3 linked regions of the Homo sapiens genome follow. The protein of the gene in region 3 purifies or fractionates together with the protein of the main gene of each other region. This does not show direct contact. Each region holds a gene or a part of one and is shown on either strand. Other genes may lie near its edges.

Region 1 (7,851 bases), on a different chromosome or scaffold from region 3:
GGATATTCACCACAGAGTGGGTATTTCATAACAGTAAGGAATTAGTGCTAATTTTGTTAGATATGTTAGTAGTAGTATGGTTGTGTTAAAAAGAAGTGCTTATCTGTTAGACCTATATACTGAAGTATTTGCCAGTGAAATAATCTGCTTATTTACTTTAACATACTCCTGAAAATAAATTTTAAAAGTGCAGAGATAGATGGGTAAATGATGACAATTGTTGATCATCACAGATGCTAAGGTTATTTATGTTACTCTACTTTTGTGTATGTTTGAAGTTTTTCACACAAAATTTTAAAAATGTAATTATTGAGCTTGTACTTCCTATAAAATACCATAAACATCCTTTATTATTCATTGAGTGTCCAAATTTTTTATTTTAAATTGGAGACAGCCATAGAAGCCCTATATCATGAATCTATAGACTTCAAAGGTGCTAACTCATGCCTCTCTAACCTCACTAATGACTGCTGTGCTGAGATGTAAAATTATGCTTTGCCTTTAATATGTGTATACATAAAATAAAACTGCACTCTTCCCTGTATTGTTGTTACTTGATTCTCTAGCTTAGTAACTAACCCTTTCTAAAATTCAATTTAGCAAATATTTTTGGAATGATATACCAGGTTCCACTAGGCCCCAGAAACAGCAAGTGGGGTATGAACATATCATTTGCATATATAATATGTAAATATAAATACATATATGTATCTATCTATATGTATGTATAATGTATATGATAATAGAATTGATAAATTCTATATTAGCTATATTAAACATGTACAATGGAAAACCTAAAAAGAAACATGTGATGAAAAACTTAATGAATCATGCTTAATGTCAGAATTATCTTTCTATTCTATTTAAAAATTTACAAAATATAAAGAGGTAATCAAAGAGTATACAGCCAGAAAATGTAGAAAACAGGTATTATAGAGGTATGTTAGATAATTAATTTATAAAAATATTGTTATTTGTCTGGATTTGGGGATGTTTGTGGCATTTGTCAGCTTTTATAAATTTGTAGAGAGTTGTTTTTCACTTCAAATTCTCACTTTCATACCCAATTTTGCATTTTTTTTTTCCCTTAAAGAGATTCCCCCACACTGAATAAACTTCAGGTGCCACATTCTGAATCTGCTTGGATATCTATATTTTGTCAGGCATTGTCCCGGGAGCTAAGGATACATCAGTGAACAAAATAGAGAAAAAAGGCCTCTCTTCTTTTGTGAAGTTTAGATTCTAATTGGGAGAAACAGACAAAAATATAATAAGCACATAAATTAAATAGTATGTTACATGGCTAGTGCTATGTAAAAAAGTTGAGGAGGGTCAGGGGATGAGAGTGCAGGGCAGAGAGCATGAGTGAGATAAAACTGCAATTTAGGCCTGGTGCGGTGGCTCACGCCCATAATCTCAGTACTTTGAGAGGCTGAGGCAGGACAATCACTTGAGTCCAGGAGTTTGAGACCAGCCTGGGTAACATGGCGAGACCCTGCTTCTAAAAAAAAAAAAAAAAAAAAAAAAAAATTTAAAAAAAATTACAAAAAAAAAAAAAAAAAAGAAACTGCAACTTAAATAGGGTGGCCAGGGTAGGGTTCACCAAGAAGGTGACTGTGAGCAAAGACTTGAAATAATTGGTTACTGATAATACCAATGGTGTCTAGTACAGTATATTAGTTTAGTGGTCTTGCATTAATGTCCTACTCAGGACTTATTTTAGAATATTTGAAGGTAAAACAACCCCAAAGTTTCAGAAGCAGGAGGGTAAAGCAGCAATAGTTGGACCAGCGCTAAGAACTGAACACCTCCCTGGGGCACTGGTCTTAGAGATTGGTACTAAACAATAGCGGCGTGAAACCTTCATTGGAAGATAATAAAATGGGAACATTGCATTTACCAGGTCATCTTTAGGGGTGAGACCTCCAAGAGGCATGACCCTTAAGGAGATCTACTCTGATTAACTGTCGAGTTTTCTACTGCTGAATAGGAAGAGGCAAATATGGAACCTTATCTTGAAGTGTCCAGGACAACAGAGGGCTGAGTACTGCCACCAAGAGTTGTCCTTCTTACCCACTTACCATTCAACCTTTCCTCTAAATAAAAGTCAGAAAAACAACAAAAAGTAGTTTAAATACTTACAAATTTATAGGATATATTATTGGACTGCCCAAGAAATAATAAAAATATGAAAATGGAACCACAACTGTGACAATTTTTAACTTTCTTAGAGCACCATACTTTCTTTTGGCATAGGCAGCTGCGGTATAGTAGGCAGACTGAAGGACAAGTCAGAACTGGATATGAGTTCTGACTCTGCCACTTTTTAGCCCTGGGCAAATCAGAAAGGGAAAAACTAAGTTTTATCATCTATAAAATGGGAATAATAATCTTTCTTTTATGACAATTAAATAATTGTGTTTAAATGAACTTCTTAATCAACAAAGTATCATAGATGTTTCACATAGTAACAAAACTATAAGGTAGTCCACAGTAGCTATGTAAGAATCATAGTTATGAAGTATATAATAATTTAACTTACAGTATTTATCAACAAATAGTTAAGACAGTACGAAATGCTTTGAAATCTCAATTTACAGTTAGTCTTTATGTAGCTTCAAGAAAGCAATCATCTAACTTCAAGTGAAGACTTTTCAACATCTTTTAACGGGATATTAGAGCAGAAGACATATACATCTCATACCTCAAAAGCAGAATAGGTCTTTTCTTACTCACTTGACTACTGAAGGAATGACCCTTAACCAGATGAAAGTTCAGCACAAAAATAACTGGCTATTTTCTCAAAATTGCCAGCGAGGTAGAGTGATTCCTAGATGATACTTGTCAGCAAGAAAGATGATCTGAAGAATGAACAAAAATAGCCTCTGTTTAACAGCTGTGATATCTATAATTTATAAGCTGTGATCATCTCTCATCAGATTGTCTTGATGTTTGGATGAGAATGAATGTTTGAAATTTCTATATTTAGTACTTATCAGAAAACAAAGTTTTGTTGTGTCCTATTCTTTTTGATCAATACATTTCAATTTACATATAAACAGTGTTCAAGAGACTTCATGTTTGAGGAATGTGACCTTGAAACTCTACTGGCATGCAGTGCTATAAATGTTTGACTAATCCTTAATTACTTATCCCCAAACAGAATTTTTTTTTACTGTTTTAAAATTTTTTATTTCATTGGCAAATAAAAATTGTATATATTTAGTATGTATATGTTTTGAAATATATTGATTGTGGAATGGCTATAAGTCAAGCTAATTAACAAACATATTGTATACGAATCTTTTTGTGTGTGTGGTGAGAAGCAAATAAACTTTAATCACTGAAAGACAGAACAACATTAAAGAATGAGACAACATTAAAGGAAGGAAGGAAGGAGGGAAGGAAGGGCGGGAGAGAAGGAAGAGAGGCAGAGATAATCGCTTTATTACCTAATTCTTTGCCAGTCTTTTTTCTTTTTTTTTGTGGGGGAGGGTGGGGAGGTCAGTCTTTGAACACGCTGCCTAGGCATCATGCTTCTAATTTCCTCTTACCACTCTTTTCACTTCTATATCACATTTATTCTTCCTTTAATATGTGACCTTATACTGGCCTCGCCCTTCACAATTCCTCTGTCGCTTACGTATTTTACTTTCTGTGGGCAGAACATTGTTTCCCTTTCCACGTCTTTCCCATTTCCTTCTTGTACAGCTGTATCACATTTCGGTACTATATGTTTATATAAGCGCGTGGTAAAACTACATATTTATATAAGCATGTGCTAAAAAACACTCGAGCAAATACCGTGACTGAGATTTTTTGGAAAACTGTGGGCAAATTAGTTAAAATTGAGAGCTCTGGCGGAGAGGGTCTCTTCCATCTATAGGACAAAATAATTGGGAATTACAGAATAAGTAGAGGAGGACAATTCAAGAGAGCACAGAGCTGCGTGCATTCTCCCTGTGCCGCGACCTGTATCCAAAAGCCTCAGACGAGACTTGAGGAGCTTCCTAGAGGCTCTCCTGCCACTGCCCCTTTGGCCAGGGCCCTTCCCGCAGTCTCCCCTCCCGATTCTTCCCTTTTACAGCCCCTCGCTCCCGACATGCGAGGCCCGTCTCTTCTTCCAGTTTGACTTCCAAGTCTTTCCATTCCCTAGGATCGGGCCCCAGTCTCACCCCCTATTTTCACCCCCTTCGGTTTTCCTCAGAAAGGGCCTCCTGCCTCCCTCGGCACCCTCGCCTACCCCCCTCGCAGCACCTGTCGCCTCCGCCCCTCACTCGGACCCCGCGCATCTGGCGCAGCCCCTCCCGCACTCCCGCCCAGCGCCCCGCGTCCCCGGCCCCCGCTGTCGCTGCTTCGGGTTCCGCCGCAGGAGCCTCTCACTCCCGGGAGCGGGCGCCTCGCGCTCCCTCCCTCGGCCCCGCCCCGCCCGCCGCTCGCCCGTTGCTTCCCACCTGGGCCCGAAGCGCCCAGCGCCCTCTCCCGGGACCCCGCGCCCGCCCCGCGCCCCTCGCGGCTCGGGGTCCGCCCCCTCGCCCGCAGGGCCCGCTGCACTGTGGGTAGGCGGCGGCGGCGGCGGCTACGCGGAGCGGCAGGCGGTGGAGCGAGGCCGCGCGCGCCGAAGATGGCTGAGAAGCAGAAGCACGACGGGCGGGTGAAGATCGGACACTACGTGCTGGGCGACACGCTGGGCGTCGGCACCTTCGGCAAAGTGAAGAGTTGAGTACGCGCTCCGGACCGCTGTGCGGGGCTGCCTGACTTGCGGGAGGCCGAGGGGAGAGGCGGGAGCCCCGGGCCTCCGGCGGGCGCGGGGCTCGGCGGCAGGTGGAGCGGTCCCGGGTCGCGCGGAGCTGGGGCCCCGGGAGGGTGGCGCGCACCGCCTCGCCTGGCACCGGCGCCCGGGCCCCACAGGGTCCAGGGAAGAGGGCGGGGGTGTGAGCTGAGGATGGGCGTCCTGGGTTCCAGGTTCCGCGCCCATCTGCCTTTCTGGAGGTCGGAGCAAGGCACTTCTGTGTTCTCTGGACCTCAGTGTCCTCCTCTGCAAAATCGGGAGAACTGGACTCGTTCTGCGAGGCGCCTTCCAGCTCTGAGCCTGTAGGCTTAGGGCGGGGATCATCCACGCTACTGAGGACTGAGGCGCCGTTTCGTGCCGGGTGCCCTGTTAGGTGCTTTACATGGAATCTCATTGAATCCTCACAGTGACTTGGTCAACATGTTGTCCTCACCCTAAAGGTGAGAAAACTAGGACCCCTAGAGATGTAGTAACAAGCCCAAGGTCACACAGAAATGGTCAGTACCAGAGTGAAGTCTAAGATGTCCTCCAATTCTGGTCTTGCTGGGAGGTCCCTGCCATCCCCAGATTCCTTCACGTTCCAGGACTCTCGGTTGTTGGGGGTGACTGTTTGGGGGATGCTCCAGGGGCCAGAGGTTGTGAGTCTTTCTTCCTGGGGTGTTGTTTAACGCTGGAATGCAGCTGGATTGGGTCAGAGGTTAATTAAAACAGAGAGGTCTGAAGGTGTTTGTGTTTGTAAAATGGCTATGGGAAGACTTCTAGGGTAAGGGAGAGAAAAAGTTTCCTTGGTGTTTGGAGGATTTGAGGCTGAGGAGGTCAGGACTGCTAAGGCATATTCTGCTAAGGTCTGTCTTCATGGAGATAGGATCCCCTTTTGAATGTAGAAAAACAGGCTGCTTTTGAAATGTTATACTTTATTCGAGTTAAGTAACTAGTAAGAATAGTTAAGTATGGAACTTTCATTTGTTTTCTTTTTTGTTAATTAGTCACATGTGATTTAATTAACCTGCCTTCTCTCCAGAATAGAGACAGTTGTTTATTAAAAATACTTTGTTGCAAATCCAGAATTATAAGTGAAATATTGACCTTTATTTTTTCTCTTTGCTGAAGAAATGCTGGGTAGGCAGTCTGGAAATTTTATTCTGAGGTCTCTATTTCCTTGTAAAATTCATATTTTAACCCCAAGTCAAGGCTGTTGAATGAGTAGAAGAGACTCATTTTTCATTCCTTTGGTAAGAATCAGCTCCTGTTTTCTTGCACATATTTAATACTCATTCATGTGTTCAAAAAACGCTGAGCACCTGCAACGTGGTAGGCACTGTTCTAGGCAATGAGGATACAGCAAGGAAAAAACAGATCTTTTTGTTTAGCTTTCTAGTAGGAGAAGGCAGACAGTAATCAGAATATATATGTAAAAGGTATGTTTAATTTTATTGAGAAAAACGAATCAGGGAAGGGAAGATAGAGAGTCTTGTGAGGTTGGCAGTTTTCAATAAGGTGGTCAGACAAGGTGGTATTTTTGCAAAGACCTAAAAAGTTTGTAAAATTCTTTGCTGTCCTGTGAGGGTTATAAAGTCCTGGGTTATTTTTGAAAGACCTTATAAGTAGAGTGGATAGTTAGAATGTATTTAAGATGAATACAGGACAATCCAGGGATTGGATTAATGCCTGTAATGTTACTTGTCATTTAGTATTATTATTAAGGACTATTGTGTTACAACATTATACAGTTGCTCAAGCAAACAGCGCCTTTGACATTTGGACATGTACACACAAAGTTATATAACTTAACCCTATGTCCTTTCATATTGTGTTAAAAGTTTTTGCTTGTCTTTTTAAGTTCATATACTGTAATCTGAATGTAGAGTAGAATACTCATCAGATCAATCAGTCCATTGCCAAAGACAACTTAAATCTCTTGTATGTACTTTTGAATTGTTTCCAGGCACTGGCTTCTTAAAATATAAACAGAAAGAACTTTGATTTATGAGAAATTCTTTTCCTGGAGAACCTCTGTCCAATGAACAACCAGTTGAAGGAGTTTTCCTAACACTGTGTTAGATCCTCTCAAAAGTGATACCATGGTTTCCTATCCAAGATTAGGATTAGTACAATTGTTACTCATATAATTCTTCAAGGGACAAGCGAAACAAAAAGTCATGTTTTTTTTTTTTGTTAGAAAACAGCTTTATGGTTGGGCACTGTGGCTCACACCTGTAATCCCAGCACTTTGGGAGGCTGAGGCGGGCGGTTCAATTGAGGTCAGGAGTTTGAGACCAGCCTGGCCAACATGGCGAAACCCCATGTCTACTAAAAATACAAAAATTAGCCAGGCGTGGTGGTAGGCGCCTGTAATCCCAGCTACTGAGGAGTCTGAGGCAGGAGAATCACTTGGACCCGAGAGGCAGAGGTTGCAGTGAGCCAAGATTGCATCACTGCACTCCAGCTTGGGCGGCAGAGCAAGACTCCATCTCAAAAAAAAAAAAAGAAAAGAAAAGAAAACAACTTATTTAGGTATATTTTATATATGAAATTCATCCATTCTAAGTGTACAATTCAGTGATTTTTACTAATTTTGCCAAATGTTGCAACCATCATTATAGATAGGTTTTAGGACATTTGAGGACACCACAGTAAGATTCTTTATACCCATTCACAGTTAATCTCATTTCTACCCTCAGTCCCAGGAAATCACTAATCTGTTTTCTGCCTGTATAAATTTGCTTTTTCTAGGCTCTTCTTCATAAACGTGATCGTTCAATATGTCATCTTTTGTGTCGAGCTTCTTTAACAATGCTTTTGAGATTCATGCATGACATAGCATGTGCCATTAATTTGTTCCTTTTTATAGTTGAATAATATTCCATTGTGTGGATATGCCACATTTTGTCTATACAAAACCAGTTGATGGTCATGGTTTCAAGTTTTGGGCTATTATAAATAATGGCACTACGAATATTCACATGTAAGTCTTTGTGTGGACATATGTTTTCATACACCTTGGGTAAATAACTAGAAGTAGAATTGCTGGGTCATATCGTAGTTTTATGTTTTACTTT
Region 2 (7,603 bases), on a different chromosome or scaffold from region 3:
GAAAAGTTCCTCTCAGTGAGAAATCATTTATTTTAATGGCAAAATTTTTACATATCAGTAAAATCTGTTATACTTAAAACTATGTATACAGTACATTTCTGGCAAAAAACCTTATACATCTTTCAGTTGTCAAGACAAAGTAAAAATATGGTTGCATAAAGTCACAAAAAATATAAACTGCTGAAAAGATAATAAAAAAAGATTAAAAATCATTTGCATTGCCTCCCTTACCTCTTCAATATTAGTAACAATTTGCAAACAACAAAAAAATTGTGAAAATTCTGTTGCAACCTTGACACACTTAACCAAAGGTTGTCATTTCAAATATCCTAGCTTAAAAAAGAATTTACTGCAATTGTCTGTGCATTTATCATACTATTTATAGAAGTGCAATATTTAAATATTTTCAAAATAAAACACAGTAACTAAAATGAATCACAATAACTTATAAGAGAAGCAAAGTTTACAAAATTAACAATTTTTAAAAGGTCCTATTTAATTGGTTCCTCCTTTTCTTCCCCCCTCCCCACAACAGCGTATATAGCGCCATTACTTAATTCCATATACAAATTTGTAACTTTAAAAATACAGTCTTCTGTTAACATCAGGAACATTATGCTGCACTTAGAGACCCTAAGTAAAATTAGAATCCCCTAAAGAGAGGGCCACATAAAAAGTAAATACAGTTTTGAACTCATATTTAAATGGAACTTCTATTACTTTGTACAGCTTTCAAATTAGAAGTTGAATAGAACAAGCCCTGGACAAAAAGCAGCAAGATTTTTCTTTTGAATTCAGTGCATGATTCTAGAAGTGCTTGAGTCAAATCTACTAGAGTCACCATTTATGCAAGCTATCATGACATTTGAGTTCATTATCATCTGGTTACATAAGTGCTCACTGTATTTGCCAAAAATAATCCTAAAATATGATTCTTAAAATAGAAAAAATATAGCTCTGTTGCAATGGGAAAATGATTAATACAAAAAAATCAATTTCTTAAAGTTAACATAAGGCAAATATAAATGATACAATATTATCATACACGATACCAATTTTATCTGAGGTGACTACATCTTCATTTACATCTATTGTGTGATGCAATTAAGAATGACAAAAAAAAATATCAGTGTAAATCAGAAATCTTAGGAAAATCCAGTATCTTTAAAAAGTAATTTAAGCCCAAAACAAATGTGACCACTTATTAATAGAATTGATTTGTTCCATATTTTATCAAAATAATAATAATGTTATATCCAACTAAAGAGTTATAACCAAGTGTCATATGTAAACTTTAATTGGATCCTAGTTTGAAATAATCAGCTATAAAGAAATTTGGAGTTAACTTCAGAAATTTAAATATGGCTTGATTAGATGATATTGGGGAATTATTACTTTTACAATGGTATTACGGATTTTTAGGAGAATGTCATTATCTGTAGGAGATACTTGAAGTATTTTCACGGTGATAAGTATGTCTGTAACATCCAAATGGTTCAGGGGGAAAAAAGCATATATACATACACAAACAAACACATATATGCATATATATGCATAACTAGCTGTATCTATACATATATAGGTATAGAGAAAACAAATGACAAAACATTAACAACTGCTGAATCTAAATGGTAGATATACATGTGCTTACCAAACAGTTTTTCAATTTTTCTGTTTTTAAAAATGTTCATAATAAAATTTGGGGGGGAAGTCATATCAGAGCACTTAAAGTTTGTAAGAGATAGTTTTCTATGCACTGAATCAATTTAAAAGATACATAATCAAATAAGTAGCAATGTGTGCATATACTCAATAATGACTGACATGATGGGCCAGAGGAATTTGTGAAATTGGCAAAAATAATATGATTTATCTACAGTATATGCAACTCAGCTCTTGTAACAAAAAGAACATTTTGTGTACAGAATATCGTGGGAATATTTTAAGACTAAAATTAGTGCTAGAGTATCTGAATATATAAATTCTGTGTTTTTGGACTTGTAAAGCTAAAATGAAATTTAAATTAGGTCTGATATCTGATATGACTTACCATACACTACAGAATTTTAAAAGGGGGATATGGAGGCCGGGTGCGGTGGCTCACGCCTGTAATCCCACCACTTTGGGAAGCTGAGGTGGTGGATCACGCGGTCAGGAGTTCGAGACCAGCCTGGGCAACATAGTGAAACCCCGTCTACACTAAAAATACGAAAAATTAGCCGGGTGTGGTGGCACACGCCTGTAGTTCCAGCTACTCAGGAAGCTGAGGCGGGAGAATCACTTGAACCCGGGAGGTGGAGGTTGCAGTGAGCCGAGACCACACCATTGCACTCCAGCCTGGGTGACAAAGTGACACTGTCTCAAAAAAACAAAGAGGGAGGGATATGGAAGAAGTTATCCAGACTGTTACTACTGCTGGAAGATACTAGCTATTTATGAAGTTAAGGAGCCCAGAAAACAAAATCACCTATAAAGGTCTTGGGAATTCTAGGCAAATATTTATTGAATAAATTTATAACACGTAATATATAACACGTAATAATATATGAAGGCCTTTATGTAAATTAATATTTCAAAGCCCTGTGTACACTAAATATAAAATAGCCAAAAATCAAGTAAGCCTGAGACCTATAATTCACTGTGTATATTATGCTATATACATACTGCACAATGAACAACAAAATGATCTTAATTCATTTCTGCATATTAGGCTTTTAACTATAAATCATGTTCCAATCCCTGTGCAAATTGCATTCCAAAACGCCAGCCCTCGGTTATAATTATGTATAACTTGATTACAAATGGAAGCATTTGGCTGTGACTTATTATGCATGCTTATTGCTGCAAAAGAAATAAGCAAAGTTTTCTGTTTATTGTGCAAGAATTTTAATTAGATTTGCACACATCTCAAAAAATTCTATTGTGTGACTTCCAGGTCTTGGAGTTAGGTCAACAGGAGAAGAGTCAAGTGAGGTCACAGATGAGGTAAGAGAAACTTCTGAGGATTTTCCTTGAGCCTCAGCATCTGAATCACTCCTTTGGCAAGATCGATAGTTGCTAACTGATCCCGATCTCTGTGGAGTAGCAGTCCCTGATTTGGCTTCTGTAATTTCATCTGGGTAAAAAGAATTTCAATTTATTATAGTCTATGACCTTCTCCCAAAAATTTTTGTAACAGTATTGAATTTGCTTCTTTAAGTGGGGCTGCTGGCCAGCTATCAAGAGCACGCTTATTCTAAATACCTTCTAAAACAGTCAATGAGCCTGTATTAAACTATTCATCTTTTTTACATATAGTATGTATTCTCAAGATAGCTAACCAAAGTTGGGTACAGTATAGCTACTCATCAGTTGCAATCCAAGGTTAAGAGCCCAGTAAACCAACAATCTAGGGATTAATAAATATTATTCTATAGCAATAAAAAGTAATCCCTCTATATTAAAATCATAGAATCGATGCACTTAAAATTTGGAGGGTATACTGGAAACCATCTCATCCAGCCCCTCACTTTATTGATAAGAAAACAAACCCAGAGAAATGACTTGCCCAAGGTAACAAATGAACAGAAAGGTAAGTCTAGAACCCAACTCTCCTAAGTCTCAGCTCAGTGCTTTTTACTTTCCACTTTCCCTTCATATTTCATTTAGTATTTCATAAAAGAGCAACAATTCCAATGAATAAAAATCGAAGAAAAACTAAGGTTGGGAACACAGTACAAAAACAAAATGGGCATTCAATTGGTATACCCCAGTACTAGTAAATCTAAGGTTGCAAATTTGATCCAAATACAAGAAAAATAAAACTCATTCCGTATTTCAGACTGCATTAGTATATGTTAGCAGATACGTACTATATGGACCTAAAGATAACCAGACAAACTGGTTTGGCCAACATATCATGGCTCAAACCTGTGTCTTTCTGCTACTATGTGTGTACTATCTTTGAGTTTATAAAGAAGAAAAAAATTCAAACGTGAACCTCATCTAATAATTCTATGCAACCTTCCATAAGCAAAGGTGATACTATATATATATATTTTAATATTTTGTAAAGACAGAGTCTCAGTATGTTGCTAAGGCTGGTCTCAAATTCCTGGGCTCAAGCCATCCTCCCACCTCAGCCTCCCAAAGTGCTGGGCTGTTTACAGGCATAAGCCACCACACCTGCACTCAACAGCGTAGCTTAATGCAATTGAATTGGCCAATGAAGAATTGCCATAACTTCATTCTTAACTGAAAACTTATTTAATAATAAATAAAAGCTTACAGAAGAGTCAATATTTATTTCTAAATAAAACATTGTCTCTTATCAAAATGAACTACACCAAAAAAACAAATGCAGCAGAAAACTATCACCTTAGGATCAGACTACACCTGGCTTTAAGGATTTTACAAGATGATAATCTTAAAAGGACAATATGCTATAAGATTACAAGAAAAATAAGATTCATAAATGTTAATATTGCAAAGGCACAAGAAATCACATTTTTTATTCCTTTGCAGTTGAATTACTAGGAACAAGTCAAGAAGCCTCAAAAGAATCAAGGCGTAAAATACCAAGTTAGTAACAAGGTCTAATCTATGTTGTTTTGTGTGATGTACATACCATCAATACTACGGAAATCCAGTAGATAAGTTCTACTATCCACTTGGTATAACTGTAGACTCATTTTGGAGTAAGTGCTTGTCACAGGATTCTTCCTTCGTACACGCAAATAATATGGGTTTACAACCTAGCACATGGTATAACAAAAACCAAGTCAAAAGTAATTCTTCTATAAAACATTTTATAGACTATGGGTTTGCCAAATATGCTAATAATCAAAATGTTATTTCTTTCTTACCTTCCATTCATAATCCAATTGTTTGATTGCTCTACATACTTCTGCCATAATATCATTTGGTCGACTTTGACTTCTAATTCCTAAATGCCATTTTGCTTTCCTTACACCTTGGTGTTTGGATTTCTGTGGATTTAATTCATCAAGGGTATGGCGTGCCCTTGGTGTTTCAGCAACCAAGAATGGTACTCTTTCAGGATGGGGCCGAGTCAGGTGATGATCATCAAGAAAAGAATCAGGTGGGCTTGTCGCCAAATAGAAATCTTTGGCTTCATTCATTATTCTCCTGTTATCTATTATGAGATGGTAGGCAACTGCCAAAGGATCCTGGTGATTTCTGTTGTAAAGACAGCTGAGAACTTCCTCTTCTGAGCACTCAAACTTTTCACATACTTCTTTTAAGGCTTCATCATCAATCATGGTTGAACTATATGATGGATCCTCAGGAAAGAGATATTTTGGAAGGTCCTGTTTAAACCATTCATGTTCCCTGAGAGAAAAATGGCAGGATCAGGAGAAGGACTTTGAATAGAGCTGAGACTGAAAGTAACAGTTTAGGGAATTTAGAATATGACTTAATTTATATTTATATTCATACTGTATTATTGTCACTTTTTGCACTGAAATTTTCCTCTTCTAGCTCGCACTTCATTGTGTATGTTGAGGGAAATGCTCCAATTTCCCTCCAGTTTTAAGAGGGAGAATGTATTGACACAGCAATGGGGGGAAAAAAGTTATGGGACAAATGACAGCGACAAACAATGAAAAGAACAGCTTATTTCCAGCTTAGAAAGAGAACATATTAGGTAGCTTCATTATAATACTCTTTTGATATAATGTTAAGTGAAGATAATGTAACAACAAGAAAAATAGTAGACAACTACTGAGTACTTACTATATGCTAAGTTTTATGCTAAACACTTCATATACACTATCTCCCCTCATCATCGAAACAATTATATGAAGATAATATCTCTTTGTTTTAAATGAAGGAATTGAGGTTAAAAAAAAAATCAAGGAACATGCTCAAGGTCACAAAGACAGTAAGTGACAGAACCAGGATTATGACCCAGTTCTGTGTGACTGGAAAGGCCATGCCCTGAATGATTTCCTATTCTAATTCCCTAACTTCGTATATTTAAGAATATGTTTGACCTGAACTATGTCACTTTGCTAAAACTAAATAAAATCCAGAGACGAAAAAAAAAACAAGAAAAGAACAATGGTTATCTTCTGGGTCATGGGATTAAAGATAATTTTTTATTCTCTTCTCTATTGTTGGTGTTTTTCTAAGTTTTTTCAATTGTCATGTATTATATTTTAATTGGAAGAAAATAGGTAAAATACAAACAAAAACATTTCTTACCTAGATATCTTAAAATATAAATTTTAGAGAATGATTTGTCCTTTCCCTTTGGTGATAAAATCATGCCGTGCCATTCATGGTCTCTTTTTTAGCTAGTCTAAAACGTGTAGTAAGTGGAAAGTAATCAAGCTTCAAGTTCCACATATAATCTTTCCTTCTTCTTCATTATACTAATGCTTTCATATTTACTATTCCTAGATCCATATCTGATTTCTTTCTTCCTTCTCAGATAAATGTGCAGTCTAGCCATTAGAAGACCAAAAGGACCAAAATTTCCACAGGGGGGAAAAAAAAGAAACAAGGCTTGCAATAAAATTGTTTAAGTCTTCATCAGAAATGGCTCACTCTAATTTGAGAAGAAAATTTGTCATCGTCATTTTTGTCTAATTTAAACTATTAGGTTGAACCAGATGAAACTGGTTATACTGACTTTTACCTACAAAACAGGAATTTTGCATGTAATTCAATGTATACTACCAGGAAAAACATGTCAATTAAATCTCATTCCTTGGGATTAAAAAAAGAAAAAAAATACAATAATTCATGAGATAAGAAATAAAATAGCCACCCACAAATTTACTACTGAAAAGTATTAATCCTAACGCCAGGCATACTGGCTCACACCTGTAATCCCAACACTGGGAGGGAAAGGCACAAGGATCACTTGAGGCCAGGAGTTCAAGACCAGCCTGGGCAAAAATAGCAAGACCTGTCACTACAAACAAAAACAAAAAGCAAAACAATAACAACAAAAAACAGCCAGGCATGATGGTGGATGCCTGTAGTCTCAACTACTAGGGAGGCTAAAGTGGGAGGATCACTTGACCCAGGAGTTACTGGCTACAGTGAGCTATGATCACACCACTGCACTCCAGGCTGGGTGACAGAGCAAAACCTTGTCTCAAAAAAAATAAATAAATAAAAATAAAAGATATACATATATATGGGGCCTCGCTATGTTACCCAGGCTGGTCTCAAACTCCTGAGCTCACATGATCCTCTTTCCTCAGCTTCCCAAAGTGCTGGAATTACAGGTGTGAGCCACAGCACCAATCTTTCATTAGCTTTTTTGTTAATTTAAAAAGTAATATGATGTTCACTGTAAAAATTTCAAAACAAAGATGTGTAAGTAAAAAGTGAAAGCCCTCCCTCTTACGAATCTTACTTCCCTAAGGTAACCAGTTTACTATGTATTTCTAATAACAAAATAAAATAAATGTGTCTATACACTCTATTTTTTTCACATAAAAACAGGATTACACTGTATATTCTGTTCTGCAACTTTTTTTTTTTCACATAACTTTTATCATGGATACTATCAGATCTGATAACTTCCAAACTGCTTTATTACCTGATATCTTTGATTGTGGCCCTCTTCATGGGATCCACCTGCAGC
Region 3 (8,552 bases):
CTCTATATATTTTTTTAAAAAACTAGGTGTCTGATGTATATGTATATGTATATGATGTATATGTATATGTATATGATGTATATGTATAAGTATATGTATATGATGTATATGTATATGATGTATATGTATGTATATGTATATGTATATGATGTATATGTATATGTATATGATGTATATGTATATGATGTATATGTATATGTATATGATGTATATGTATATATGTATATGTATATGATGTATATGTATATGATGTATATGTATATGTATATGTATATGATGTATATGTATATGTATATGATGTATATGTATATGATGTATATGTATATGTATATGATGTATATGTATATGTATATGATATATATGTATATGTATATGATGTATATGTATATGTATATGATGTATATGTATATGATGTATATGTATATGTATATGATGTATATGTATATGTATATGATGTATATGTATATGATGTATATGTATATGTATATGATGTATATGTATATGTATATGATGTATATGTATATGTATATGATGTATATGTATATGTATATGATGTATATGTATATGATGTATATGTATATGATGTATATGTATATGTATATGATGTATATGTATATGTATATGTATATGTATAAGCCATACATTTATAGGACACTTTACACTTGTCAAGAGTTTTCCCGGGATGGGTGTGATGGCTCACGCCTGTAATCCCAGCACTTTGAGAGGTCAAGGTGGGCGGGTCACTCGAGCCCAGCTCATGTGGACCAGCTTTGGGCAACATGGTAAAACCTCATGTCTACAAAAAAAATAAATAAATTAGATGGGTGTGGTGGCACATGCCTGTAGTCCCAGTTACTCAGGAGGCTGAGGTGGGAGGATCACTTGAGCCTGGGGAGGTTGAGGCTGCAGTGAGCCATGATTGCACCACTGCATTCCCACCTGGGGAGCAGAGTGACACCCTGACTCAAAACAAAAAAAACAATAAAAAAGAGTTTTCCCATGAATTACTTTATTTCAATATCCGTATAAAGCAGGAAAAATGGGTATTATTTCCTGCATTTGACAAATGGGAGAAACAGTAGTTACACGGTTAGCTCAAGTGATCACTGTTTAAGAGGTTTGTGGCAGCAACATCTAACTTTTAACTCACGAACATGGTTTTAAATGTCTTACATGAGAGATGTAAACAAGAATGTTTCATTTTCAAATAGAACACTTATTCCTGCATAATCGAGTCACCACCGTGGGGGCCACACAGCAGCCAGGGGTCCAAGTTTCCAGCCCCAGAGCTTTCCAGCCAGGGAGGGCTGGCCCAGGGCCCCTGTGGGGCTACTTGGCATCAGGTGTCTGGAGACCCGCCCCTGGACTCCACCCTCTTCACCCAAGCGTTAGGCACGTGTGGGCCGGAGTTTACACAGGAGGACCTTAGCGGGGCGTCTAAAAGAAGGGTGGCTCAGCAAACACGGGGCAGTGCGCCCTGGGATTCACAGTGGGAAGTGAGTGGCCTGCCTCGGCCATGCCAGCTGCGCCTGACCCTGTCGGGAAGGATTAGCTTTAATGAGGGGTCCGGACAGCCCATTCACTGCGCACTCCCACCCTGCCCCGGGAGAGCAAAATAACTTTCTCTACGGAGCACTCTGGTGTGTGTGTGTGTGTGTGTGTGTGTGTGTGTGTGTGTGTGTGTGTGTGTGTACACAAACATTTACTTGGTTGGCTGAGGCGGAGGGTGTGACCCAGTGGGCCACACCTCCCACCGCCCTACCCCGCTACGTGGAGGCGAGGAACAGTGGCCGCGGGCTACCGGGGCGCCTTCCGAAAAGAGAACCACTACGCGGCCCGCCGCCCCTCTGGCTGGACAAAGTGAAGCCGCAGGCAGATCCGAGTCGCCAATGTCCTCCCGGGCGGCTGGCGCGGACGGGGCTGAAGTTCAATGCAGCCTGCACGGATTAGGGAGCTCCGAGCCCCCAAATACCACAGAGACCCAAAGTACACTCCCGGGGCGGGGGAAGGGAACGGCGGCAGAGGAGACCCCCGCTCCAGGCCCAGAAACGCCCGGAGAGAAACTGGAGCGGAGGGGGTGCATTGGAAGACGCAGCTACACAGCTCCCCCCAACCCCCGCCCCGCTGCTTTCCCCACCCACCGCCCCTCCCCTCTCCTCCCTCCCCTCCCCTCTCTCCGTCTCCAGCAGCCGAGCGCGGGCTCCACCTCCCCGGAGCGCAGTCCACACCGTCCCTTTTCAGCAAAACAACACAACGCACCGCCCCCCGCACCCGCACCCGGCTGGATACCGGGCTACGCCCAGCCGCCCACCCGCCGCGCCCGGCGCCCCCTCTAGTCTGCAGCCGCCCAGCCCCCGCCCCAGGCGGAGCCCCAGCCCTGGCTGCACGCGGGCAGAGAGAGAGATTGAGCCCCGGCTCCGCCAGCCCAGCTCGGGCCCTGTCCCTCTACCCTTTCCCCAAGCCGCCCGAAGTGACAGGAGGGGCACGCACGGCGCGCGCGGGGCGTCCAGCGTTAACCGCTTCGGCGCCGGGGACGGGAGCGACAGGAGGGCTGGGGAGCAGGGGACCGAGTGCTGGGACTCACCGGAATGTGCACGCGCAGCGAACGCCTCTTCTGGCTGGCATTTTTCTTGCCGCCGCTCCCGCCGGGGCTGGAAACATCTTTTTTCTTCTTGGTGTCCATAACCGCGCTTCCCATAACTCTAACCAGAAGTTGATTCTGCGAAACTCCTCGGGGGTTCGGTCCCCTCCTTCCCTCCCCCGGCCGCTGCCTTCGGACTGGAGCCGCGCGCTCTGTTACACCCTGAAGCCACCTCGTGGGGACTTCCGCGGAGAGGGAGGGTGAGCAGGGAACTCGCGCGGCCGCCGCCGCCGCCGAAGCGCCGAATTCAAGCGTCCTTTCCTACGGAACCCTCGTAGGCAAATCAGTCAAAGCCCGTCCCGGTTCTGGTGTCTCCCCGGGTTACTCGTGGCTGAGGTCTCCCGCTGGGTGACAAAGTTTTCTTCCTTTTGCAAAGCTAAGAAACATTTTCCACCCTCTCGGCTCCTCCCACAGATTCCCAGAGGTAATCTGAAAGGCAGGTGCAATTAAAACCAGCAATTTGGAAAACAAGCCTCCTATGCCTGTGCCCAAGTGGGGAATCTGGAACCAGTAAGCCCGTTCGTGCATAAATGTAATCCTCGGCCGCAGAATAAACCAGCTCGGAGCCTGCAGCTGGGTCCGTCCTCCTTTCTGGGCGAGAGGGAGGGCGGCGGGGGAAGAGGAGGTGCAAGGCGAGCCCTCTGCGCAATTAGGCTACGGGCGGCCGCTGGCAGAAGTTCTGGCGGCGGCGCTCGCGGCCCTGCGCGCCGGAGGGGGCGCCCGGAGTCCAGCGGGCCAAGAAGGGCAGGGCGCCCGCTCCTCGCCCCCCGCCGCGCCGCGGCCCCAGGGGACCGCAAGGGGACAGTGAGGGGCCGGGCCTGGCACCGACGCAAGCTCGGGGAGCGCGGGTGGTGGGAGGCGGCGCGTGTTGAACAGGAAGTGCGCGGCGTGCAGCGCCACCGTCCCGCTCCCCGTCGCCCCACGCCGCCCTCGTCGCCGCGCCCAGACCCCTGCGGCGGCCGCAGCCGCTTGGGACTCGCTGCGAGCTGGTTTCGGATCCATCCCGCCTCCCGGCGTCTCACTGTGTGCCCTACCCTTTGAAACACGCCCCCGCGCCCGCCCTGCCGTAGACCAGGCAGCGAGGAAGCCCACAGTCTCCGGGGGCGCTGCGCGCGAAGTAGCACGTGCTTCTCGAAACACCGCAGCCCCCGGGTCCCGCCCCGCCCGGCGCGCGCACTCGAACCCGCCCAGAGAGCGGTGCGTGGCGCTGGGTGCGAGCAGGGTCTAGCCACCCCCACCCTCACCCCACCCCACCCCACCCTGCTTTTTTCAGGTTCATCAAGGTTTGCGCAGTGGATCCGCGGTAAGTGCGTGTCCCCACGCCGCGGGAAACGTGGGGCTCCTGAGACTGCGGAAAGAATTGGGAGAAGGGGAGGGCTCGAAGACCCGGGCGAGGGTTCCCGGTGCGGCCCAGGTCCTTTAGAGCCCCGGGTGGGCATCCAGTACCGCCTGCTGCCGAGGGCCCTAGAGGGGTTGGGGGAGGGGGCTGGTGTGTCCCCCACCCCCAGATGCGCCCCAGGATGGCGCGACCTCGGCTCCCTGGTGGAAAGTAGGGGGAGTGCTGGCTTGGGGGTCGCTTCCCCTCCTGCTCTAGTTTCTGAGGATGTGATGACCCCAAAGGTCATTGGCGCTCCCAGAATGCTGACGTCAGCTCAGCCGCTCCGAGTAATCAGTAATGCAGGGAGGCCACCCGCAGAAAGAACGCGACAGGGGTCGCTTTGGGGACACCATAGGGCCTTTACTCCTTTTGAGGTGCGTGCTTTCGCAGGACTCCCTCCCCAGAGGAGGAGGCATGATCAGCCCACCCAAAGGATCATCTCTTAGGAAGCAGGCGTGCGCCCACGCAGGGAGAAGCATCCTTCCTTTCAGCTGCTTGCCGGGTGGCTTTTCCAACCCGAGTTCCAGCAGCTTGCACAAAATCCTTACAGCTTGGGTGGTTCCCTGGCTCATAGGGGTGGGTTTATATTCTTTCTCCTTCTCCTCTGCTCTCTGGTCCAGAATGAAGCCAGCCTGGAAGATCCCCAGTCTCGAGACAGAGCCTGACAGGGGCAGATGCACTGGAAGGACCCTGTCTGGGTTTAGCAACCAAGCAGCCATCCTGGCCCCACAGGTGTGGGACTTCTGGGTCTTCTCCTGGCTGGCTTCTTGCTAGAGGATTTCAAGAGACCCAGCAAGACTGTATTGTCCCACTGAATGCTCAAGATATTGGTTAGAAGTAGAAAAGGGGAGGGGGTAGTATTTAGCCTCTGTCCCCACTAAAAATTATTCCCAATTGTCATTTGTGTCATCTGTTTAGCTTACAGTTTTAATCCTTGTCAAAATGATCATTTGCCAGGGTGCATAAAACACCCTATTTGATGAGAACTGGTTTTAAAGGAAAATGGGGCCATCAGAAGGAAGCCGGTTGGTGTGAAGAGACGTCTGGGAAGAGCCCCTGGCGAGGGCCCTCATTCCACTGGGTGACCCAGAAGGAGAAAACCGCGATGGCGCTTCTCATTTGAAATGTTTTCTTTATGGACAGTGTTTAGCAATTGTTATAATGTGTACTTTTGTTGATTGATCTGTATACATATGTAAAATAATTTGTTCTCTGAGTTAATTTTGTTGGAACAAAGACTTTAGTGCTTCCTACATTAAAACATTTTACTGTATTGCCTGCATTTTAAGAGCCTTTTTTTAATTTTTAATTTTTTTGGTCCTTGTGATATGACGAGGTATAAATTCTGGGTTTTGTCCAGGGTTCCTGGCTTAGCACTCTCGTCGCCCTCATCACAGTCTCTTGTTATAATGTTGGGGCGCTTTAGGCCTCAGACACCCCAGGAAACAATCTCCTCTGAACTTCCCCTGCCCTCCTTCACCACCTCACCAGCCCAAGGCAGGACTCTAATCCTCCCTCATCTTTCTGATTGTGGGACTTAAGACCCTCTATTCAGAAGGGGTCCTGCCCCATTCCCGAGAGGAAGAAATCCTGCACGGAAAGGCCAATAACGGTCGGAATAGGCAGGACTTGTTTGGGTGTCCACACTTACTCAGTCACTATTGGATCATACCTTTTTGTTCGATCACATTTCTGCATGGTCGTCAATCGTGTCTGTCCAATGAAGTCTCCTTAAGAAGCCCAAGAGGTCTGGGTTTGGGGGCTTCTGGATCCCTGGACATGTGGAGGCTGCTGGAAGACGGGGTGCCTGGGAAGGGCATGGAAACTCCGTGCCTGTTCTCCCTGTACATCCCATCATCTGTGTTCTTGGTAATATGCGTTATAATAAACCAGTAAATGTACATTTCCCTGAGTTCTGTGTTCCACTCTAGCAAATTAATGAACCTGAGAGGGGGTTGTGGGAACCCCAATTGAGAGCCCAGCCTGTCGGTCAGAAGCTCCGGATGCCTGGACTTGCAACTGCTGTGCGAAGTGGGATGGGGGTGGGGTGCCTTGGGGATTGAGCCCTCAACCTGTGGGATCTGCCACTATCTCCAGGTAGACAGTGTCAGAAATGAGTTGGAAGACACCCTGGTGTCTCCTGCGGAACTGATTGCTTGCTTGGCAGTGGGGAGAACCCCCAACACACACATATGGTGACACGAACCTTCCGCGTTGATGATTGTCGTAGCGTGAGAGCAGAGGAAAAAACAATTTGGGATTTTTCCCTTCAGGGTTCTATATATGAATATTTCTGAATTATGGGGGTTGCTTATAGATGATGTCAGAAGAAGTTTACCTGCCATTTTTTTCCTTCTAGAGATACATTAACAAATTGATCACATATCTTCTGACTGGTGGAGTCTCAGAGTGGAAGGAACACAGTAATTGTTTTGATTTGAGGTGTTTTCTGAAAACCCCCGTCTTCCCCTCCCGTTGGTGTGCACACAGTTATTTTAGCCAGGAGCTAAATGTCGCGGGCCCACGCGACGTTGTTCATATAATGACCCCTGACATTCACTCTTTCTCTATGCCCTACCTATGACCTCCTTCTCAACATTAATGCAGTAAAATCTGTGCTGAACAAAAGGCCAAAACTTTAAGTAAGGCTCTGACAATGTCACTGATTCTGCCTTTTGCCTCCGGTGCCAATATTGCTCGGCTCAGCACTGTTACTGATCCTGTCTTTGTGTAAAATTCTAATGTTTAGAAATATATTGCATTACATATTCTTTATCTTGGTGACTGAGTTTTTGGCACCCCCTTAAATTTTGCACCTGAGGCCAATGCCTCATTCACCTCCCCCTCGTCTTCCGAGAAGGATGAGAAGGAGAACTTGGCCAGGCCTGGAGCTGGGGCTGGGGCTGGGGCTGGGGCTGGAGCCGGGGCAGGGGCTGGGGCTGGATCTGGGGCTGGGGTCAGGGCTAGGGCTTAGGCCAAAGCACCCAGCTTGCTTCAGCCAGAGGAGCTGCCTCTGACCAGCTATGCAATGGGGGCAGGTCCCTTAGTTCCCCATCTGTAAGAGAAGTGGGATGGTCTTCAGAATATTTCTGTGGCCTCTTTAAGGGAGCTTGTATTTTTGTCCTGATTGTATTTGGTATGTCTTTGTTAATTGTATTGCTCTAGTAATTTATTTTTTATTGAATTTTACAAAGTATCATTCCACAGTAAGTTGGAAATTAAAAACAAACAGAAACAACTAAAAAACCACCCAAGGCCCTTCCTACAGATGGTTTGGGATAGCTTGTTGGAGAAAGGGGCATATTGAGTGTATCAGTCTGTTCCCATGCTGCTAGTAAAGACATACCTTAGACTGGGTAATTTATAAAGGAAAGAGGTTTAATTGACTCACAGTTCCACATGGCTGGGGAGGCCTCACAATCATGGTGAAAAGCAAGGAGAAGGAAAGACACGTCTTACATGACAGCAGGAAAGAGAGAGTGTGCAGGGGAACTCCCATTTATAAAACCATCAGATCTCGTGAGACTTATTCACTATCACGAGAACAGCATGGGAAAGACCCACCCCCATGATTCCTCCCACAACACATGGGAATTATGGGAGCTACAATTCAAGATGAGATTTGGGTGGGGACACAGCCAAACCCTATCACTGAGGCTGCTTCCCGTTGGGGGCATCATTGGCCCAGGCTGGTGAGCATGAGGGTTAAAAACATGCAGCTTCTATTATGTGACAGTGCCAAGGGCTCATACACATGTTAGCACATTGAATGGGGGAGCAGATATGATTGGCACATTTTATACCACACATGTGTTTGTGTCGTTGCTGTCCCACTATATTAGTATCCTAGACCAACATCACCTGCAAATACTTGGGGTACCCATTTCTGAATGCTGTCAGCTCTCAGGGATCCTGGTCAACACACTGGCCTGCCAGGGTGAGCCACCTCTTCCCCAGCCAGGCAACATTTCATTCAGAGGTGATAATTTAAAATGCTGCACCCAGGTCCAGGGCCTACAACCCGCTGAGAAGTGAAATACCCACAGTAGGAGAGTTAACGTAAAGGAAATCCTTGATCAGAGCTTATGAAGGGGACACTGGCTATTTAATTTCACTTAATCTGGTTTTCCAAACTTACGTGTTCCCTTACGCCCACCCATGCTTTTTTTTTTTTTTAATTTGGCCTGTTATTCCATATAAATAAAAATGACTTTGAAAACCATGAGTCATCTTTATATAGTATAGACAGTCTTAGAATTGGGGGTGTCCTCATGGGTTTGAAGTCCAAGCTTACTCTGGGTGCTTAGAATGTAGCAGTTAGAAGCTTCCTCTGTAATCAGGAGATGGATGTCTGTGTCTGATGAGTTCCCAACCTCAGTGACAGTGGATTCCACATTGCAAAGAAGAAAGGAACTTTTTGATCACTAATAACATGCCAGGCACCATGTTAGGTACTTCATATTAACTATCTCACCCTAATTTCCACTAAAATCCCTGAAGAGAACGATCACATCCACTTTACAGATGAAGGGA

Evidence for each region.
Region 1: the proteins of PRKAG2 (region 3) and PRKAA2 purify together in Homo sapiens (affinity purification with mass spectrometry; 7 studies listed by BioGRID and IntAct, with this or other methods). This does not show direct contact.
Region 2: the proteins of PRKAG2 (region 3) and PRKAA1 purify together in Homo sapiens (affinity purification with mass spectrometry; 10 studies listed by BioGRID and IntAct, with this or other methods). This does not show direct contact.

Annotation. Positions count from the first base shown.
Region 1 is NC_000001.11:56,640,764-56,648,614, forward strand, and holds the start of PRKAA2 (5'-AMP-activated protein kinase catalytic subunit alpha-2), read left to right. Parts: upstream 1-4,550; 5' UTR 4,551-4,624; coding exon 4,625-4,718; intron 4,719-4,989; exon of another isoform or gene 4,990-5,232; intron 5,233-7,851. UniProt on the Homo sapiens protein: Catalytic subunit of AMP-activated protein kinase (AMPK), an energy sensor protein kinase that plays a key role in regulating cellular energy metabolism.
Region 2 is NC_000005.10:40,759,908-40,767,510, forward strand, and holds part of PRKAA1 (5'-AMP-activated protein kinase catalytic subunit alpha-1), read right to left. Parts: coding exon 7,559-7,603; intron 5,332-7,558; coding exon 4,845-5,331; intron 4,734-4,844; coding exon 4,607-4,733; intron 4,561-4,606; exon of another isoform or gene 3,116-4,560; coding exon 2,871-3,115; 3' UTR 1-2,870. UniProt on the Homo sapiens protein: Catalytic subunit of AMP-activated protein kinase (AMPK), an energy sensor protein kinase that plays a key role in regulating cellular energy metabolism.
Region 3 is NC_000007.14:151,873,923-151,882,474, forward strand, and holds the start of PRKAG2 (5'-AMP-activated protein kinase subunit gamma-2), read right to left. Parts: upstream 3,194-8,552; 5' UTR 2,699-3,193; coding exon 2,585-2,698; intron 1-2,584. UniProt on the Homo sapiens protein: AMP/ATP-binding subunit of AMP-activated protein kinase (AMPK), an energy sensor protein kinase that plays a key role in regulating cellular energy metabolism.